Regions from separate parts of the Homo sapiens genome. Here regions 2, 3, 4 and 5 are each linked to region 1. Evidence: fine-mapped expression QTL. A gene starts in region 1. Each other region holds a variant in brackets. All regions are shown on one strand. Distances are from middle to middle.

Region 1 (4,119 bases):
AAGACAGTAGTCCTTAGGAATGTGCTGATTGGGTTCAACCTGTGTGAGGCCCTCAAGGAAGGCCAATCTAGATAGGGCTGAACACATACCTAACCTCTGTATCTGTAGTAGGTGGAGAAAGATCCTCAATTATAAGCCCAAATACAAGGTATTAGCAAGAGAGATTTAACACCTACAGTCACACTTGGAGTTACAAGGTGTTAATGAGAAAGACATACCAAGGAATATATTTCTCCCCCCTTTGGCCGCGTGGCTTCACTATTGGTGTACAATATTTGAAACCTCAAGTTGTGAAACTCTGAACCAGGAGGGTTTCCTGTATTATGAATGATGTCATCTTTAAGATGAGGGACTTTCAGTGAAATGCGGGAACATTCAGGGTAATGTGTTTTCAGCAAGCAGGAGCTTGAATTTATGGCAGAGGGGAGTGTGTGAGTTGACCAAAATGGAGAGTGATGAGAAGTAACTAAATTATGTATGACAGTCTTTACCGAGCAGAGGAAGGAAGAAAGCTTAATGATGTTGTGGTTGAAGGAGCAGCAGCAATTGGTGATGTATGGGTTGTAGGTTGGTAAGAAGAGAAATGGATCTATGAAGACCCAAAGACTGTAGATGAGTGTGACAAAGACCAAGCGGTGGATTTGGGAGGAGGAGGGAAACCAGGGGCTCGGGATATATGACACATTTTAGCGGCAACAAGACAGCCATGTAAAGTCAACTTGAAATTAAAAATCATCATCTTAATCTATGTGGCTCTTTCAAGCCTGAGTCTTATCAAGGCAAAAAAAAAAAAAAAAAAATCTATAGTTAACGATGAAGTATTTCTCCCTTTTGCTTTCCCGGCATCCACCAAGAGCAGTACATAATTTAATTATTGAATCTACAAGCTGGACCATGAGATGAAGAATGATGTGTCTGCTGTAGTGAGAAATTAGATAGAACCAACTGTTTACTCTCATCATTCTTCCTCCGTTAGGCTAAATTAATATAGTTAACAAGCTTTTGTTTGGAATAGCAGTTCAAATCTGGGATGTGCAGATCAGAACTGGCGATTATTACAGTAGCTGTTATTTATGGAGTGCTGACAGTCCCCTCAAGTCCCATGAATGAAACAGAAAGGGGTTCTTCTGTCATTCTCTGTGCTAGAACCACTGTAAGGGGCTAGACGTCTGCACAGGGTAACGAAGTTCATGAAAACCAGATTAAGTTGCTTGGGGCATACGACTCCAGAAATGTCACTGATGGTCTTTCCTATTGCCCTGTTTTTCTCATCTTTGAAACAACTGCAACAAAATGTGCACTATATAAGTGGGCGAGCATTACCAGGAGGTAACATGCAGGTGGGGTGCCTGTGCGGTGATACGGGTCGAGCAGGGCGCGGCAGGCTTTAGCAAACACCTCAGGCCCTTCCGCACAATTTGAGCAGAAACTGAAAGCCTGTCAGGCGCAGCCAAATGCAAATCTAGCTTCGAGGCACTGAGCCTCGAGGCACAGCGCCCCCGCCGGACCCAGTTCCCTGCCCCATCCAGTGTGTGAAACTGTGACCCAGCCACCGGCCAAGGGTCCCCACGGGGACGCTGCGACACAGCGGGCTCACTCCAGAGACCCAAACCAGGTCTCCCCACCTCCCGCCCCGCCAGTTTCACGGCACTAGATTCTTGGGGTCGTCTTTTAATCACAATCTCCATAGCCGTGTCTCTAAGCAGTTGATGGAACACGGATGGTGGGGAAAACCTCACCACCGCCACCACCACCAAACCAAGCAGCCCCCGACGGTCGTGCAGTCAGGCCCGGGAGCGCCCAACTCGCGGCCACCCAGCGCCACGCGTGACCCGGGCAGCGGGGCGACCTCGGGGCGGTCTGGCACCCGGGAAGTAGTTTGTGCTCGGGCTCTGAACACCGCCGGCCGGACCGCGGGCTGCGTCACGGGGACCGGGAGGCGTACGGCGACGCGGAGCAGCGCCTTTGCGGCGTGCGACCCGCCCCCGCCGTCCCTCCCTCCCTCCCCTCAGGGCTTCGGGCCCCCGGGGCCAGCCGCCGTCCTGCGAACGCGCGGCGCCCGGGCCGCTGCCCCCTTCCGGCCCCGCGGCGGCCCCGCCTCCTCCCCCGACTTCCTTCCCTGAGCACGGCGGCGGCGGGGACGAGCACCGGCCTGCGCGCGGAGCCGGCACCGGATGGTGGGCGGGGGCCAGCCGTGCGGGTACGCGGCCCGCGCGCCCCTAGCCACCGCCGCGTGGCACCGTCCCGAGCGCGTGGCGCGGGGCGCTGGCTGCCGGGCGGGGGCCTGGGGCCGCGGACGCTGGGGGCGCCTCGGCCGCGCTCAGCCTTTAGATCGGAGAATGCGGGCGGGGTGGGGGCGCTCGGGGTCCCCGCAGTCACTCCAGGGTCGATTTCTCGGCGGGCGCCGCGGCCTGTGCGAGGCCGGGCCCCTTGGAGTGCCCCGGGAGGTGGTGCTGGGCGTCTGAACACCACATCCCTTCCTGCGCCCGTGTGTGGGTTGGGAATGCCGGGTGTAGGCCCTGGATCAGAGCTGACGGGGTTGCGAGCGGCGTGGGGTGTGCCTGGGACGGTGACCGGATGTGTCTTCCTGAATCGTTGTATTCGAGCTCCAGTTCTCTCTGTTTCTACAGCTGGGCCTCAGTCCTCACAGGGCTCTAGTGGGCGTTCAGCCACACCAGGAGAAGGCGCCCAGGGGATTAACAGGACCCTTCCCTCTCCTGCTCTTCCCTCGCCCCCCATGGCTCCCCCTCCCTCCTATTTAGTAGGTACTTCTCCAGCACCCCACAGCGATGATGGATGCTGGCCCTAAAGCCAGGTGGGAAACCAGGCTGATTCAGCACCTGTCTTTTCCTGTTAGGGGGGTTGCCAGGCCTCTCAGATGTGGGGCAGCGTAATCAGTGGGTGACCGTGGTTCCCAGCACCCACTCTCCACTGCATCCTTGTCTTAGGCACTGCCGCCCTGCACTGTAGCAGATGCCTAAATAAAGTGTGGAGCCTGAAGCAGAAGTTTTGGGAGATGCTTGCCTTCCTTTAGACCACATTCCTCGCCTTTCTCAAGATTTCTCCGTGGTACCCACCCCGTTTTTGTGTTGTCTTCCTTCCTTGCCCTTGTTTCATTCCTTTTGAAAGCGACCACTCCCCTGAAGTCCTAGGACCCCCTTCGTGGGCTCTCCCTGCCGTAGACAGTCTCTGCTTGCCCCTGGTAAACTACGTTCCAAAAACCTTGCTTTAGGAGTAGCACTTGACGTTTTTCATAGTTTCTTCTCATGTAATTCATTACTCGGAGTTGATAACTTCTGTCCCATCTGGATTATTGAGGAGAAAGGGAAGGGAAAAATTATCTGGTTAATATCAGAGTTGGGAAGGCTTCAGATGTTTTCTTTGAATCCGTCTGGCATGGATGATAATCCTGTGTGGTTTAGGTTAAGTTACCTAAGTTCTCTGAGTCTGTGTAAGATGGGATGGCACTGTCTACCTTAGCTAGGAGTAAGGCTTGAGTGACATGATGTGTATAAACTTTAACAATGTCTGGAATCTATAGATGATCAATAAATATTTCTTTTTTCCACCCTCCTCCTGTGCTGACTCCGCTTTGTAAGGGAGACAGGTAAAGGACACAACAATTTGTAGGCTGGCATAAAAAATCCTATGAGAAAGCAGTAAATAGATGAAATATTTGGGAACGTGAAGCTATAGGTTTCAAATTCAAACTTCTGAAATAGGAAATTTCTTAAGTTTTTACTTAAGACCAGAGACTGTTTAGGGCCCATGTGCTGTGATTTCTGATTGATAAATGTAGCTGAAGTTGCCCATGTTTAGAGATTTAAAGGTTCAGTGTGGTTGGGTTGAACTGGAAAACAGACTTACTAAAATGCTTCTCTCAACTTCTGTTTTGTCATGTTTTTCTTCTAGACCCAACATGAGTGAAGTTTCCTGCAAGAAACGGGACGACTATTTGGAATGGCCAGAGTATTTTATGGCTGTGGCCTTCTTATCAGCACAGAGAAGCAAAGATCCAAATTCCCAGGTAAATGAATTTCACGGGAGAATGCTTAGATACTCACAGGCAAAGAGATTACTGCACATGAGCAGAAAGGGGAGACTCAGTGGACGCCTGTC
Region 2 (4,119 bases), 32 kb after region 1:
CACCTGGGCCGCTCCCATCTTCTGCAGCCATCCTTTCCTGAATGTGCAGTGTGCCTCGCCAACCTGGCCCCGTCTGCCTCAGCCACCCAGCGGCCTTCCTCCCTGCACCAGTCACCTACCTTGAAGGATTTTTCTTTTTTAAAAATCAACATTTTTTTTCCTTCTTTTTTTTGAAACAGGGTCTCACTCTGTCGCTCAGGCTAGAGGGCAGTGGCGTGATCATATCTCACTGCAGCCTCAACCTCCTGGGCTCAAGTGATCCACCCACCTCAGCCTCCCAAGTAGCAGGAACTATGGACATGCATCTCCACACTAATTCCCTGGCTAATTGTTATTTATTTTTTATTTTTTGTAGAGACGGGATCTCACTGTGTTGCCCAAGCTGGTCTCAAACTCCTGGGCTCATGTGATCCTCCTGCTTTGGCCTCCCAAAGCGCTGGGATTGCAGGCGTGAGCCACTTTGCATGGCCTAAACCCAGCATTTTTAAGAGCCTCTTCCTGTGCTCCCTTTGACCATCCACAGTTTCCATGCATGTTTCAACACTGAGTTGGATCCCGCCCTCTCTGTAAAGTCTCCCCAGACCTTCCTGAGCTTGAAGTGATTTTTTCTTCTTTGAAATCCTGCAGCAGTTATTGTCAGCAACTGTCTTTCTGGCAATGAATCGTGTACTGTTTTATGATATCTCTTCTACTGTCTAGAACTGTTACTGAAACATGTCATTTAACTTTTCATATGTATCTTGTCCTGCTCTAACGAGGTTGGAAACTCCACAGAGCGCATGTGGCATCCTGTGTATCTTGGTGCCTGGCTACCATTTCTCTCCATGTCTGCACGGGACCCTATGCAGAGGGGCTTCATACACATTTTTAATATTTCCACTTAAAAGTTATAAACTTGATTGCACTTTAATTCAGTGAGGTAGCTGAGCAGGAGCCAACCTCCTAAATTATTTTTTCCATGCTGATTTCTTTGTGAATGGCTTGAAAAAAATTGTCATCTGGAATGTAAGAGAAAGAAATCTTCCTGTTAGCAGCCAGGGCTAATGGGCACATTTATCTTTAAGAGAGACAGGAGATTACTGTTTAAATGTCTTATTTTTGACTTCTGCGTTTCAGTTAAAGCATTCTTATATATGGGTTTGAATGAGGAATTTGGCAATAACAGACACTCTTGGCAGAACACCCAGAGACGATGTTTCCACTGAAACCCATCCGATTAGTGGATTTCTTGACCTTTCCAGGTCTTAAATCACTGTTGAATGCTTTCTGTTGTAGGAGTTCTGTATGTTAACTTTTGTTAATGAAAACTGTTAGAAACTTAAACATGCCATTTGGTCCAGGTTTTAAATGGGCATTCTGTTCTGGAATTGCTTCCTCTGCAGGGGTGGGCATGGTGTGCAGCCTTTTGATTTATTCTGCCTTTCCCCAGCCTCTGAATAAGTAGGCATTAGTAATGCATGTAGCTGTAAGTAACAGGCCCCTGACTCTCAGTGACTAAACAAGTAGCATATTTTTCCTCACATAACAAGTACGGTGGTAAGCATTTGCTGGAGTTGGGTCAGCTGGTCCATGATGTCTGCAAAGATCTAGGTTTTTTTCTTTATTTCTGTCTTTTGCTTTATATCTTCAGGCTTGTTTTGTCAAAAACTTCAGGCATCCCATTCACACTAAATGCAAGAAGGAGATGGGTGGCAGAGTGGGGATGAGGCTTCTCTGCTCTTGGCTAT[C/A]CCTTTGATCAGAAAAGCAGAAACTTTCTCAGAAGCCCCAGCAAGTATTCTCTTCCATCCCTTGGGCCATAGCCAGTCACATGGCCACCCCTAGCTGCAAGGGAGGCTGACAGGGTCCTTGGCATTCCACATTCGATAGAGGAGGCTGCAGGGGAGAAAGAGGCTAGTAACTGCTGTCATTCATGCTGTTGGCCACAACATACCCCTTGCTTGGAAAATTGTATAACAGTTTAATTGTGTAATTTCTACTCAGTGGTTCTTCGCATCCTCAGTGTTAAAGTTGTTGTTGAGTTGAAAAATGATACTTGCTTCATAGGAATTTTGTGACCTTCACGTTGACTTTCAAACTCCTGTGCAGGAAATCTTAGTTTCTTAGCTGGTCACAGCTATGAAAGAGTGATATATATACATAGGCACGCATACCACTTGAGGGTCAGTTACAACATGGTCTCTGGCCCCTAAATACTCAGCGTTTGTTTCCTAAGAATAGGGACATTTTCATATCCAGTATAGTTAAGTATAGTTATTGACAATAATATGTTTAACATGGTTAGAATATTTTAATTTATTATTCCTATCCCAATTTTGTCAGTTGACCCAATACGTTTCTTTCTGGTGTTTTCCATATGGGATACAGTCTAGAGTTTGGTATTGCATTTTGTTGTCATGTCTCGTTAGCCCCTTTAATCTGGAACATTCCCTGTGCTACTGCTTCTTCTGGAGCCTCTTTCTCCTGCTGCCTCATGCTAACATTTTTTTTAAACATTTTGGTCTCAGGGCCCCTTTACACTCTTAAAAATTACTGAGGACCCCAAAGAAACTTTAGTTTCATGGGTTATATTTATCAATATTTACATTAGAAATTAAAACTGAGAAATTTAAAAAATATTTTAATTCATTTAAAATACCAATAGTAAACCCTTTACATGTTAACATAAATAACATACTTTTACGAAAGAATAACTATTTTCCAGAACAACAAAAAATGTTTAATGAAAAAAGCAGCATCGTGTTACATTTTTGCAACTGTTTTTCGTGTCTGGCTTAATAGAAAACAGCTGGATTCTCATTTCTGTGTGTTTTCTATCTGTTGCAGTAAGTTGTTTTGGCTGAAATATGTGGAGAAAATCCAGCCAAACCCAGATATATAGTTGGAAAGGGGAGGCATATTTTAATAGCATTTTCAGAAAATTGTGGATAGTCTTTGATACCACACCACAATTTGATATATGAAAGTTTCTTAAAAGCTAGTTGCAATGTGAAATCTGAAATCATATTAATGAGTATTTCCTATTATCTTACATTAAAATCATTTGGTCTATCTTGTATTTTGAATTGATGTTTAACCCATGCATGATACTATTGGTCATTTGGAAACTACCAGTTCATTGAATGATGCAGATCTTTCAAGACTTGACACATTTCATTATACAACGTCCCCAAATCACTTTTGTAAACATCACCACTAATTTGAGAAAAATCTCTCTCTTTAAGTACTGGGAAGCTGTCAAGTTCACAGTGACCGATAACAAGTTTTCCAAAATTCGGATTTTATCTTGAAAGCGTGAATTTTATCATTTGATCACTTCATTTCCCTCAAAGTGATAAATAGCTTACTTTGTTCATTTTCAAGAAAATGTCTGTCATGTCCCCAAATCTGAGTATCCACAGTCACTCTTTCTTTGAAGTAAAAATGGCATCCCATGAACAAAGGGGCTAGTTGAGCTTGCAACTCAAACAGGAAGAGCGTGGCACTCTTCCTAAGGACAACGTGCAGAGGTGCTTCATGCACGCTTCCCATCTCACCCAGGAAGTGTGAAAAAGATGACTCGTCAACGTGGAGGTTCCCTACAAGTAATACTTTTTCCTGCCGGCATCGCTGAGGACATCTTAAGGGAAATGGTCTTTTTACTTCTCTGCCTTTGTTTTCTTCCCTGAGCATGTGGTGGTGAAGAGTGCACGTGGGCGCCACTGCCTCTGATTCCTTCACCCTCACTTTTCCTCACCATTGCTTTGGTTGCATAGTGCAAATGTCCACACAGTGAAAAAAGGCAAAAAACATCTTAGTATTATAATGAAGATCATTTTGACAGGGTAGACCCCATGAAAGAATCTGTAGGCTCATGCTTTGAGGTGCCAGCTGCCTTAGATGACAGTACGGTTATAGCCCGAAAGGCACTTTGGAAGTGTCTGTTCGCTGTTGACTTTGTTCGTTCGTTCTCTTTCTTTCTTTCTTTCTTTCTTTCTTTCTTTCTTTCTTTCTTTCTGTCTGTCTGTCTGTCTGTCTGTCTGTCTTTCTTTCTTTCTTTCTCTTTTTCTTTCTTTTTTTTTCTCTGTCTCTCTCTCTCTCTCTTTCTTTCTTTCTTTTTGACAGAGCTTCACTCTTGTCACC
Region 3 (4,119 bases), 41 kb after region 1:
GAGAGAGGGCAGCCCCAGAGTCAGAATCAAGGTGTCAATAATAGGAGAAACGATGGTGGGGAGGAGACCAAGGCATTAATATAGGAACTCTGTATACTTTCCAGTCAATTTTTCCATAAAACTAAAACTGCTCTAAAAAAGGAGTCTGTTAATTTTTTAAAATCTCAAAAAGAATGTGGCTGGTGCCACAATGAACAATTTGAGTGAGAAGCTACTCAACGAGGTCAGAGGCATCAGAGAGGAAGAACACAGCAGCCTGTTTTCTTTGCTGCTCTTTACCGTTAGAAAGAACACTTTTACAACAGACTCTGTTTGAGGACAAACGCTCCACATTTTTGCCCGCTGGCAGCAGTCATAAATTATGAGATTTCTGAGGGGCACAAAACTGCAGCGGTCTAAACCAGGCAACAAAAATCAGCCAAGTCCTTATCAGGATCCCCTACAAATTCTATTGACTTTTTTGGATCTGTTTGTCCCTAGGTGTGAACTAGGGAAAAGTCAGGCGAGTCTGCCTTGCTAGTATATTTAAAAGAGGATCTTGGAGAATTTGAAAGAAAATGTGGAAGAAGAAATGACAGTGCTTGGTGAAAGTCAGCAGAAGGGCTTGATAATGGAACAGACTAAGGGTGGTGGATAGTTTTAAGGTTGAGAGAGAAATGGAATTAAAAAAAAGGGAGATATTCCTGGGGGCTTGAAGCAAGAAGCAGCAGCCGAGAGCAGCGCTGATCAGGATGTGAAGGGAGCTTGGTGCGGAGGGCAGTGCTTCCTATGAGAAAAAGTCCAGTGGTCAATCTTTTGGGAAGGAGCTGGTGGGATGAGGGGGCAGCTGGACTGACCTGAGTGCTGTTGTACTGTCTGACCATCTCCTTTGTAAACAGACGCTCCACACTCATGCTCAGAGCAGCATTATTCACAGCAGCCAGGAGGGGGACGTCGCCCAGGTGTTCCTCGGTGGATGAATGGATAAAGAAAATGTAAACACACAGTGGAATCTTACTCAGCCTTGAAAAGGAAGGAAAGTCCATCCAACACATGCTACTGCATGGACGAACTTTGGACAGTGAGCTAAGTGAAAGGAGACAGTCACAAAAGGACAAATACCAGATGATCCCACCTGCGCGAGATGATGTGAGTGTCAAATACATAGAGACAGAAAGTAGGATGGTGGGTGCGGGGCCTGGGAGAGGGGAAAATGGGAGTTGTTTAACAGATACAGACTTTCAGTTTTGTGAGATGAAAAGTTCCGGAGGTTGATTGCAAAGCAGTGTGCATATAGTTAACACTGCTTAACTGTACACTTAGAAATGGTTAAGATGGTAAATTTTATGTTATGTGTTTTTTTTGTTTTGTTTTGTTTTGTTTTTTTGAGATGGAATCTCTCTCTGTCGCCCAGGCTGGAGTGCAATGGCACGATCTCAGCTCACTGCAGCCTCCACCTCCTAGGTTCAAGCCATTCTCCTGCCTCAGCCTCCTGAGTAGCTGGGACTACAGCCTCACGCCACATGTCCGGCTAATTGTATTTTTAGTAGAGACAGGGTTTCATCATGTTGGCCAGGCTGGTCTGGAAATCCTGACCTCAAGTGATCCACCCGCCTCGGCCTCTCAAAGTGCTGGGATTGCAGACGTGAGCCACCGTGCCTGGCCTTATTATGTGTGTGGTTGTTTTTGTTTTGTTTTGTTTTTTTGTTTTCTTACCACACACACACACATACAAAACAGCTGCCCTGGCCCCTAGAGTAGTGAATTTTCACCAG[C/G]AGCCACCTAGGGGGTGAATTTTCTGATCATTTTGGGCTCAGTTCTGAAGTTCTGACTTTGAGCCCCACCTCACTCTGAATCTACAATCATTCTCTCTCCTGTCATCCTGTTGCAGTCTGCTCAGCTGCCCATAACTAAATACAAGGGACTGGGCGGCTTAAACAATAAGCCTTTACTTCTCACTGTTCTGGAGGCTGGGAAGTCTGAGATCAGGTGCTGGCATGGCCGGGTTCTGGTGAGGGCTCTCTTCCTGGCTTGTGGACGGCCGCCTTCTCACTGTGGGCTCACCTGGCAGGGAGTGGGGCCGGGAGCAACGGCTCTGGTCTCTTAGAAAGCTACTAATCCCATCGTAAGGGCGATACCCTCATGACTGCATCCAAACCTAATTACCTATAAAGGCCCTACCTCCAAAAACCCTCACATGGAGGGTTAAAGTTTTGACATATGAATTTGGGAGAGGGACACAGCTCAGTCCCTAGCACACCTTTCCTCCAACCCCAGAATTCAAAGGAGCAGCACACATTCCTTCAGCTCCGTCCATTGTAGCCTCCATTCCTCCTACGCTGTCTGAGCATCCTGGACTGTCTTGGGAACACCTGTCCTGTTTCCACCAGCTCCCTGGGATCTGCGGTGCAGACACCCCCTGAGAATGCCCACTCGGCTCCCCTGGGTCTTTAACCCAGGGACCGGCCAGATGTCTTGCTCACATGTCATAAATATGATTGCAATGTGGCTGTGCGTGGAACCCTGGCCCACTCTGGACCCTGAGCTCCAGAGACTCCGAGGCAGAGCTGCATTTCTATTATCACTTAGTAATTGGAGTTTTGCAGGCTTGGGATTACTGCTAATGGAAAGCAAATGGGCCAAGAATCAAGAAATAAGCACTTGAACAGCCAGCAGCACTCGGTAAAGCAAAGAGGCTATTATGCCACTTTATGTGGATAGAGATCATCATTTGCAGAAAGATTTGCAAAAATCTTTCCAGCCCATGGAAACAATGCCCACCAGGCCTTCTGGTGGCCCTGCCCTCCCTGCCTGGTGCAGCTAAGTGGCCGCCCAGGTAGGGAGCCTCACCTGCAGCACAAATTACCACCCGAAGCCAGCCTCTCCCGCTTGGCAGGAGCAAGGTTTGATCTTGCCTTCGCTGCCTGCTTTCTCGCTGGTACACAGAGCTCAGAGAAGCTCTTGGAACCAAAAGCCCTCCCACACACCCTGCCTCAGACTTCCTCGGCCTTCTCACCAGCCCCAGCCCAGAGAACAGGCGGTGATAGGGCTGCCATGAGCTGCTGTGACGGAAAGCTCGGAACAGTGGCTCTTGACTCAAGGAGAGAGAAGTGGCTGTAAAGAGTGACGTTTCCCGGGGTTTGCTGACCCCTGGTCTCCGGGTTAGTCTTGCCCTTTCTCCTCTGTGGGGTTGTGTCACCATCATACATTTACATGAGGGTCCTTTTCTCCATAGATCACGCCACCCCCTTCCCAGTGGCTAAAAGGCAATTTAATATGCAGAAGCTCTGCTAGAACAGCATTAGGTTATGACATGAGGAAATGGAAAAAAAACATCTAAGCCCAAACTCTGCCCTTCAGCCGTCCTCCTGAGACAGCGTGCTGCTGTCAGCCAAGGACAGAGTGGGCACGCTGGGGTTCTTGGGCTCAGCAAACAACAGGAAAACTGAGGCAACTTCAGCTGCTTACAAGAGAGAGACACAAGATTCACATGAGTTCCTAAGTTCAAGTTGGCTGAGGGGCTCAAGGGACTCACCGCGTCCCTCCCTCACTCCGGCAGATGCTGGGACGCTTCCAGACAGCCCCGGACATAGGGGGAGAGGGAGAGGCATGGAAACCCTCTTACCTTAGCCCCTCAGAAAGGTGCCTCCACTCATTGGTGACTCCCTCACTTAGCCATTAAATGTCACTACAGCCCGTTCGCACAGGGGAGAGAATCTACATCTAGCAGTAAAAAAAGGTGATGAAATGAAAGAAGTTGTGAAATGACATTTTTTTCCAGCAGGTTTGTCATATCTCCTGCATGGAGGAAAATTGCTTTCTGTAAATCTTGGTCCAACAGAACAAAACACCTATTTCTTTCCAGTTGGGAGGACAGCCATTCTCATCGGTATAATGAACGTATTGTAAGCTGTGACTTTTACAAAGTCTGAGGGAAACCAATCTGCAATCTTGACAGATACGATCTTTCCAGATGCACTGTTCGTTTACGGCGGCAAGAGAGCTCAATTAATTTCTGAGGGAGGACGGCAGGATGCGACCCCTTGTGCGTGGCCTAGGAGGAACTGTCCCTGTGTGAATTTATGTTCTGGTAATTTAAAAAGATTTATATTAAGCTTTTCTTTCATTTTGAGAGTAGAT
Region 4 (4,119 bases), 70 kb after region 1:
CACCACCTGCAGCCACAGAGCAGGCCATGGTGACTGTCCCCATTGTCACTGTTTTAGTGATGTTTGGCCTTGGGTGTTGAGATTCTAACCTGTCAAGGCTTGGAGGTGGAGAGTGCCCCTCAGGTCTGGAGAGGGAGGGTGTGGGAGAGGCGCCAGAAGGACACCAGCAGGACTGTGGGGATGGCAGGAATCTGCTCCTACCCTCGGGAAGGTAACAGAGACCCTGTGTGCTACGCGTGGCCTTGGCAGCCTCTGGGAAGGCTTTGTGGGTGACTTGAGCCTGGGGGACAGGACTCGGGAGCAGAGGAGCCACAAGACTTGGGCTTGTCCATGAGTTTCCCTGAACCCCAGGGGGCTAAAGACCAAAAGTCTCCTCCGAGTTTCCTCGATTGCACGAATGCTGGAGGGGCTTTTACAGACCCGAAGAAGGTGTCTGGGGCCCAGAAAAATGACTGAGATAGGAAAGATGAGAGGGGCCCAGCCAGATCTATTTATATGTGGTTTATTGATTTTTATCTTATTTTTATCTATATATTTATCGTATAATATATAGATTATTATATACAATGTATTTATTACATAATATAGAATATGTTTATTATAACATCGTATTTTCTTACTTAGAATATAATAATGTATTATAGAATAAATCTATAAATATCACTAAATAATATATTTTTAAATTTTATGATATAATTCCTCACAGGATTTTTACCATGGGGAATTCTGAATGAGCATGGAAGCAAATAGTGGAAGGTGGCCAGATGCAGTGGCTCACGCCTGTAATCCCAGCACTTTGGGAGGCCAGGGCAGGAGGATTGCTTGAGCCCAGAAGTTCAAGACCAGCCTGGGCAACATAGTGAGACCCTATCTCTTAAAAAAAAAAAACAAAAAACTTAACTGGGCATGGTGACCCGTGCCTGTGGTCCCAGCTACTCAGGAGGCTGAGGCTGGAGGATCACTTGAGTCCAGGAGGTCTGGGCTGCAGTGAGCTGTGATTGCACCTCTGCACTCCAGCCTGGGCAACAGAGTGAGACCCTGTCTCAAAAAACCAAACCAAACCAAACAAACAAAAACACTGGGACGATCTGTTCTCAGCACACCGTGACGAAGGGAACCCCTCGCCCTCGGCCCTACCCTTCAGGCAAAGCATGGCCGGGGCCTCCCGGGCTCCCCACGTTCATGGCCCTTTCCTCTGGTGCATTGATGGTGGAATCTCCTCTTCTGTCTTGGAAAAGCCAGGGCAGGTTCCTCCCTGAGCTCCTGGGCGTGGGGTGGAAGGGGCAGTGCCACAGCGGCCTCCTGTCCTTGCCCACACCCAGGCTGTGGAGGCGCAGGAGTGCTGAACGCCACGCAGTCCCCGGCTTGGCCAGCCTCGGACCAGTGAGGTCTCCAAGCAAAAACCTAGAGCTTTGGCGAAACGTAAGCAATTTCTTTTGAGCAAATTCCTCCAGCTGTCTGTCCTTCGTCTCTAAGCTGTGAGATCAGGAACCTTTTCTTTGTTGTTCACCTCTTGCTGGGCGGTTAAGAACAGACCTAAGCCAACTTGTCCATAGTCTGGAAGATATCGCCAGCCTCCGACAATGGCGGGGAATTTCGCCTTCCCCACTCAGCCTCCCTGCCAGGTGGTGTGTATGATGAAAGCTAGTCTCTAGCCGATTGCTGACAAATGTACAGGTCGCAGCAGGCACAACACAAATCCACGCCTTTTACCTCTGGGCTTGGGGAAGCCCCTCTGCTCTCTGCCCTTCTGGAAAGATTCTCTGTGAGACACAAGTGAGAATATTCTGACAGCAGGATCAAGTTACCTTCTAAATGAATCCCGCAACACATGCTCTGCTGAGTGGCTCTGGGGCAGGGAGGAGAGGTATACCCAGATGCAGTCAGGATTCTAGACCTACGTCTTTCTCCCAAAGGTGAGAGTCTAGGGGCTTACAACTTCCACATCCCGTTCAAGCAAGAGCAGAGGACTTGCTTCTAGGCCACCAAGTGTCTCCAACACCACCAATTTCTTCCTTTCTTTCTTTTTCTTTCTTTCTTTTTTCTTTCTTTCTTTCTTTTTTTTTTTTTTT[G/TTG]AGACGGAGTTTCGCTGTTGTTGCCCAACTGGAATGCAATGGCATGATCTCAGCTCACTGCAACCTCCACCTCTCGGGTTCAAGTGATTCTCCTCCCCCAGCCTCCTGACTACCTGGGATTACAGGCGCGTACCATCACGCCTGGCTAATTTTTTGTGAAACGGGGTTTCACCATTAGCCAGGCTGGTCTCGAACTCTAGACCTCAGGTGATCCGCCCACCTCGGCCTCCCAAAGTGCTGGGATTACAAGCGTGAGCCAGCACGCTTGGCCACCACCACCAGTTTCACAAGGGAAAGAGAATTGCTAACACCCCAATACCAATGAAGGAAGCCTGTGGTACAGATTTAACTAAAACACGGAGCCTCTGCCCCTTCCTAGAGACTGGATTGGAGTTAATTCTCACACACACACACACACACACACACACACACACACACACACGATCTGTACTGTTTTTACTGATCTGTCTTAACATAAATTATGTGCACTCCAACGCCAGCACTGTGCCTAACAGATATTTGTTGAACGAACCAACATAATTTCCATTTCTTGAAATCAGGAAACTGTGTCAGAGGGCTGGGAGGAAAGAGCAGGCCATGGGGTGTGCTGGTCTGTGGAGCAGGTGACAAGGGGATCTGTGGGCAGGACAGGCTGGCATGATGATAAGTCGCCCTCACTGGTGGAAAGAACGCTAATTCCGAAGAGGCCAAGAACAGATTTAGCCTCCATGGAGGACATTTAGGGAAATATCTGGAACCCCCTCCTCACTTCCCACGGCTCTCCTTTGGGGGATCTTTCCTCAGCTCCTGGACAGGGTCTTGTCACCCTGCTGCTTAGACAGGCTGAGTGGCCCTTATCTGAAATGCTTGGGACCAGAAGTGTTCCAGATTTTGGATTTCGAGATCTTTGTGTTACACTTACCTGTGGAACATATGAAAATCTGAAAAGCTCCATTGAGCACACAAGATTTGGATTGGGGAGCATTTTTGGATTTCGGATTTTGGATTTTTGGATTTAGGGAAGCTCAGTCCGCAAAAGCTGGTGTTGATAAAATAAGAAGTTGAGGGACTCCAAAGAGTTGAAGCGTCTGGAGTGTGCAGGGTGAATGGAAGAGTCCCTGAATGAGGTGGAGAGGGTGGCGGGCCAGGCTGGGGAGGGACTTGCCAGCCCGTGGTGAGGATCTGGAAGCTCCCTGTGGCGGACCGACTCGTGTCCCCCCAGACAGACATGCTATGTCTTGACTCCCTGTACCCCAGAATATGAATTTATTAGGAAATAGAGTCTTTGCAGATGTAATCAAGTGATTATTAGGGTGGGCCTTAATCCAATGTTACTAAAGTCCTTATAAAAAGGGGGAAGTTTGGACACAGAAAAGTGGAGGCTTTGGAAAGAGTCACAGTGGGAAGATGGCCCTATGAAGACTGGGGTGATGATGCCACCAGCCAAGAAAGGTCTGGGCTGCCAGGAGCTGGAAGAGGCAAGGAAGGGCGCTTGTCCTACAGCTTTCTAAGGAGGCGTGGCCCTGCTGACACCTGGATTTCCAACTCTGCACCTCCAGGGCTGAGAGACGGCTCATTTCTACTGTTTCCAAGCCACCCAGGGTGCAGCTCTGTGTTAGGGCAGCCCTAGGAAATAGACTCCCTGTCACACCTGTAATTCCAGCACTTTGGGGGGCTGAGGCGAGCGGATCACCTGTGATCAGGAGTTCAAGACCAGCCTGGCCAGCTGATGAAACCCCGTCTCTATTAAAAAAATACAAAAAAATAGCCAGGTGTGGTGGCATGCGCCTGTAGTCCCAGCTACTTGGGGGGCTGAGGCAAGAGAATCTTTACAATCCAGGAGGTGGAGGCTGCAGTGAGCTGAGATCATGCCGTTTCATTCCAGCCTTGCTCTGTCTCAAAAAAAAAAAAAAAAAAAAAAGAAAGAAAAGAAAAGAAAGAAAAAGAAATACAGTCTCTGCGGACAGTGGGAAGCCAGAAAAGGACTTCAGGAAGGGAAAGGACTGCATGTCTGATCTTGAAATTGTTAGAGCGCTGCCGGGGTCAA
Region 5 (4,119 bases), 27 kb after region 1:
ATAGGAATGCCAAACCTTGGTGAATTTTGCAAATGTAACAACTTTGGCATAGAAAATTTAGGATGAAAGTAGCCTGCCAGATTGAAACATTGGGGATTCTCTCTTTTTTTTTTGAGACGGAGTCTCGCTCTGTCACCAGGCTAGAGTGCAGTGGTGCGATCCTGGCTCACTGCAACCTCCGCTTCTCAGGTTCAAGCGGTTCTCCTGCCTCAGCCTCCCCTGCCACACCCAGCTAATTTTTTTGTACTTTCAGTAGAGACGGGGTTTCACCATGTTGGCCAGGATGACCTCATGAGCTGCCTGCCTCAGCCTCCCAAAGTGCTGGGATTACAGGTGTGAGCCACCTGGGGATTCTTTTTACAGCAACATTTTGCATTGAGATTTGAAGTCTTACAGATTTTTATGATTATCTTTGCTAAGAAATGGTTGTGAGCTATATTTTACTTGCAAGTAAGTTCAACTACCTTTGATTCATGGCAGAAAATTCCTTTGGGACTGTAAAGTTTTCCAGCGCTTCATGGTATTGGCGTTCAGCAGCAGTGGGACCATGGTCATAGGTGACGTGCCCTGGCCCCTTGTGCTGGTCATTAGGGATACAGCTCAGTGTATCTCATGAACTCAACCGTGGTGCCTTCTGAGACTTTAAATTCAAATTATTTGTATACTCTCTTGTTCAGTGATTCTTAAAAGAATTTGTTTTGTTCCCAAATGTCTTCTTTTTAATTGTTGTAGAAGAAATGAGGAACAAGTGAAAAGTTAATGAGCAAAAAAAAAAAAAAAAAAGTTGGTTTATGTTTGCATTTTTAGAATGTAATTTGAAAAATTACTCCTCACTAAAGGTAGTCGTTTTTTGCTATATATAAGCGGCAAAAGAAAATTTACTATTTTTTTGCATTAGAGAGACTCCAAGTTGGCTGCAGAAATTTTTCTAGAAAATAAGATAAATCTGATGGGAAAACTAGTAATCGGATATCATGTTGTGCAGCTGACTTGTTAGAAATCCTTTGACTCCCCAATAATTCGTGAACTCAGAGAGCTGAAAACATACAAACCACACCACCCCATGCATCTTTTTTTGTCTTAGTCTTTTCTGCTCTGTGTTTCTCTTGGTATGGTGCACTATAATTGGCTCCTATAGAGAGAAAATAGCAAGTGAATCCCAGGACATATTTTTCTCTGCACAGAAAATATGAGTTAAGCCAAAGTAAACAAATTGCTTTCACTACTCACCAGATAATAATTGTATTTTGTTTTTATTTTTAGGAAATTCATACCGAAGTGCAGCAAGATTGTCATTGACTTTGATTCAATTAACAGCAGACCGAGTCAAAAGCTTCAGTGAGTTACATCTCATTCAATCTCCAGAAGATTGGGATTATCGTCTTCTAAGAGGTTGCTAATGCCTTTCATCTTGAAGTTACACATAACTTCTTACTAGCCAGTATGGCAAAAGTAGGCATCTAAAGAATATAAAGCCTCAAATCTTCCTTACTGTCTCTCTTGTCACATGGAATCTACATGTGTTTGAACTATTGCTTTAGG[G/A]TTTAAAATAGGGGAGCCTGTGGTGGCCTGGTGCACAGGGCTAGAACGAGAGTGCCTCCCCTTCTTGTGTCCTGGCTGGCTGGGATGCTGGTGGCTCTTCAGAGGAGCATCAGCTGTCTGTCATCTGCTGCGATCCGGCAGCCTCTCTTCACTGCTACATGTGCTGGAAGGACAAATAAATAATTGTGGTTGTGTTCTTAATGGGGACGAGCAGACACACTGATCTGAACATCTGGCCCAAGTGAAGCATGGCATATAGTGCCCTTGGAAGAAAATTAGGCCTCAAATGACAGTAGCATTGAAGTGTTTGCTGCAGAGTTGAGGGAAACCCCCAGCCACCCTCCCGGAATCCGAGATAGGGTGGCACATCTGTCCTGACAGACGAGGAGTGTAACTGAACCAGGAATATTTCCTCCATTCCTGCTCTCCCACTGCACACAGGGTGGTGGCACATTATCCCTCTGGGGGGTGGGGACGCCTGTTGTTTTGGCTCAATTTGGGTTTGTTGGTCACATGGAGCTCTTCCATTTCGTTTAGCTGAATAATGAGTTGTTCCTAGAGGAGACAGCCTGTCTCTCCTTGTTGCCCCCAAAGCCCATGCCCTGCCGTGGTGGCAGCTGGGGCTGTGGATGGGAGGGGTCCCCAACATGGATGTGTTGCCCCTCCTCCGCATGCCAACGCAGTTCATGTACAAGGCCCCTCTGCAACTGGAGAGAAAATTAATTCCTATCCCGTGAGTGGATTGTGAGAAATTCCACCCACGTGGAGACAGCTTACTGCAGCACTGTTGGTGTTCGGAGCTCTTCTGTGCCCTGGCTCCATGCTTTCACCTACACAAGCATCACCTTCCTAATCACCGCGGGGCGGGGAGCGTGTGGCTGTGCCCCTTCTCTTTAATCTCATTTAATTTTTATTAAACATGCTCAGTACCTGTGTTGAGAAAAGGCTTTCTTTATCCTAAAGATTATTACCTTTTTAAAGTGCTCTTATATTTTCATGAGTTTTTATTTTGTCTCTGAGATTTTGTATTCCACATTCTAGGGTATTCTGTAATTTGGCTCCTTACCAATATTATTAAAATCTTATTAAAATCTACCCTACCAAAGCATGTACATTTTTATGTTATTATAATTATATGCTTAATTTTCTGCTCCTGTCCTTTCTGTATTGTCTCCGAAGCATATTACATATGTTTTAATGCTCAAAGAATAATTTGAGATGCCCAAGCTGTGTGCGTTCCCCAGGGTTGATGTCTGGGGCTGCTTTATGGATCAGATTTATGTAAAATGCGAAGGCAGCCGCTAGCCCTACGCTCTCTCCTGTGTACCCTGCCCCTGGTCCCAGGTGTGGCCATCTATCTGGTAGGGCCCAGGCCTCTGTCCTCCCGGAAGGCTTCAGTCCTGAGTTCTGCCCTTTGCTGACTTCTCACCTTATCCTCTTTCCAAGTCTCTCTTCTCTTCTCTCCTAAATTTCCTTCTCTTTTCTCCTCCAAACTCCTCGCCCTGTGTTTGCTCCAAAATACATAAAACAAAAGGTATGTGGAAAAAAGAATCAGTAGACTTAAAGGTAGAAAATTAGAGATTTCTCTATTGCCGCAAGTCACAAGAGTTGTGAGTCCTGTTAGGATGGAGTGTGTCATTTTCATCACATCACATTGATAAATATGTCTAGGGGCTGATAAGCCAGTAGGGCATCTAATTTATGTAATTTTGATACTATCTTATATCTTGTCTGGTTGTTACATTCAGTTTCAGTGAAAAAAAATTGACTTTTTTCTTTTTCTGTCTTTGAGGGGAGGTTGACAGGAAGGGTCCTTGCTAAAAGGGGAGTCCTGGTACTGAGGTCAGTTGTGGGTGTTTATTTGGGGGCAGATGCTGTCGCTGGGGGGTTGTGATGCTTCCACCTATGAACCGACCCTGGTCTCCTGGTGACTGGAGTGTGAGTGATTATGTCTTCGTTTCTAGGATCACTATAAGAATAGTAGAATTGTCCTATCCAGAGAATTCTGCAGATGTTCATGTTCCAGTTAATAGAGGTTTGCTTTGAACTGGTGCCTTGGGGAGAAGCTTTCCAGAAGGAGGGAGTTTTGTGCAGTCTTTTGCCTCGCAGGCATTACTAGATAATTGTGGTGAAGGGAGACTGTATCTGAGCCAATGTTGCTGCCTGTCATGGCTAATAAATGACAATAAGGAAACCATCTTTCACTGAACCGTTGGTAGAAGGACTACATTTAAAAGGCAGAATTTGTGAGTGAAATGATAGGAACTCCATTTCCCTGACACATTTTCTGCTTTCTTCCCTTTTACTCTTTTAGCAGTCTGTCCTTAAAGACTTCTGAAGCCTGACAAGACCCAGCAGTGAAAGTGATCTAATATATTAGCCATCTTTTCCTAAATTAAAAATGAAGCAAAATAAGAGAACAAGCATACAAGCTGAGCTCATGAATACAAATGTAGGCTTGCAAGCCCGGTGAGCTGAAGTTCCTGTGGCCCTGGTGTAATTTTTGATCTTCCAATGTCTGTATCTACCTGAGGATTAAAAATATTTAGGTTGTTGCAAAAGGGCCTGAGGAATGCA

The links. PIP is the estimated chance that this variant, and not a neighbour inherited with it, causes the effect.
Region 2: its variant is the best candidate, but not a certain one, in a credible set for the expression of DCTD in whole blood (TOPMed, PIP 0.71).
Region 3: its variant is the best candidate, but not a certain one, in a credible set for the expression of DCTD in whole blood (TOPMed, PIP 0.53).
Region 4: its variant is the best candidate, but not a certain one, in a credible set for the expression of DCTD in whole blood (INTERVAL, PIP 0.76).
Region 5: its variant is the best candidate, but not a certain one, in a credible set for the expression of DCTD in transverse colon (CEDAR, PIP 0.62).

Annotation. Positions count from the first base shown.
Region 1 is chr4:182,915,369-182,919,487 of GRCh38, reverse strand. It overlaps DCTD (dCMP deaminase), which reads left to right and starts at 2,102. Exons shown (of 6, transcript NM_001921.3): 1 at 2,102-2,177; 2 at 3,913-4,027. The coding sequence starts at 3,920. RefSeq lists an enhancer at 138-187 and a silencer at 1,761-2,470.
Region 2 is chr4:182,882,919-182,887,037 of GRCh38, reverse strand. No RefSeq gene overlaps it. Among named protein-coding and RNA genes, the nearest start is that of DCTD, 32 kb to the left of the region's middle. The variant C/A (reference allele first, on the strand shown) is at 1,728.
Region 3 is chr4:182,874,520-182,878,638 of GRCh38, reverse strand. LOC105377576 (a long non-coding RNA gene) reads left to right here. Exons shown (of 3, transcript XR_007058403.1): 2 at 879-1,128; 3 at 3,761-4,119. Among named protein-coding and RNA genes, the nearest start is that of DCTD, 41 kb to the left of the region's middle. The variant C/G (reference allele first, on the strand shown) is at 1,755.
Region 4 is chr4:182,845,333-182,849,451 of GRCh38, reverse strand. No RefSeq gene overlaps it. Among named protein-coding and RNA genes, the nearest start is that of DCTD, 70 kb to the left of the region's middle. The variant G/TTG (reference allele first, on the strand shown) is at 2,073.
Region 5 is chr4:182,888,622-182,892,740 of GRCh38, reverse strand. DCTD (dCMP deaminase) reads left to right here. Exons shown (of 6, transcript NM_001921.3): 6 at 1,264-2,650. The coding sequence ends at 1,342. Among named protein-coding and RNA genes, the nearest start is that of DCTD, 27 kb to the left of the region's middle. The variant G/A (reference allele first, on the strand shown) is at 1,543.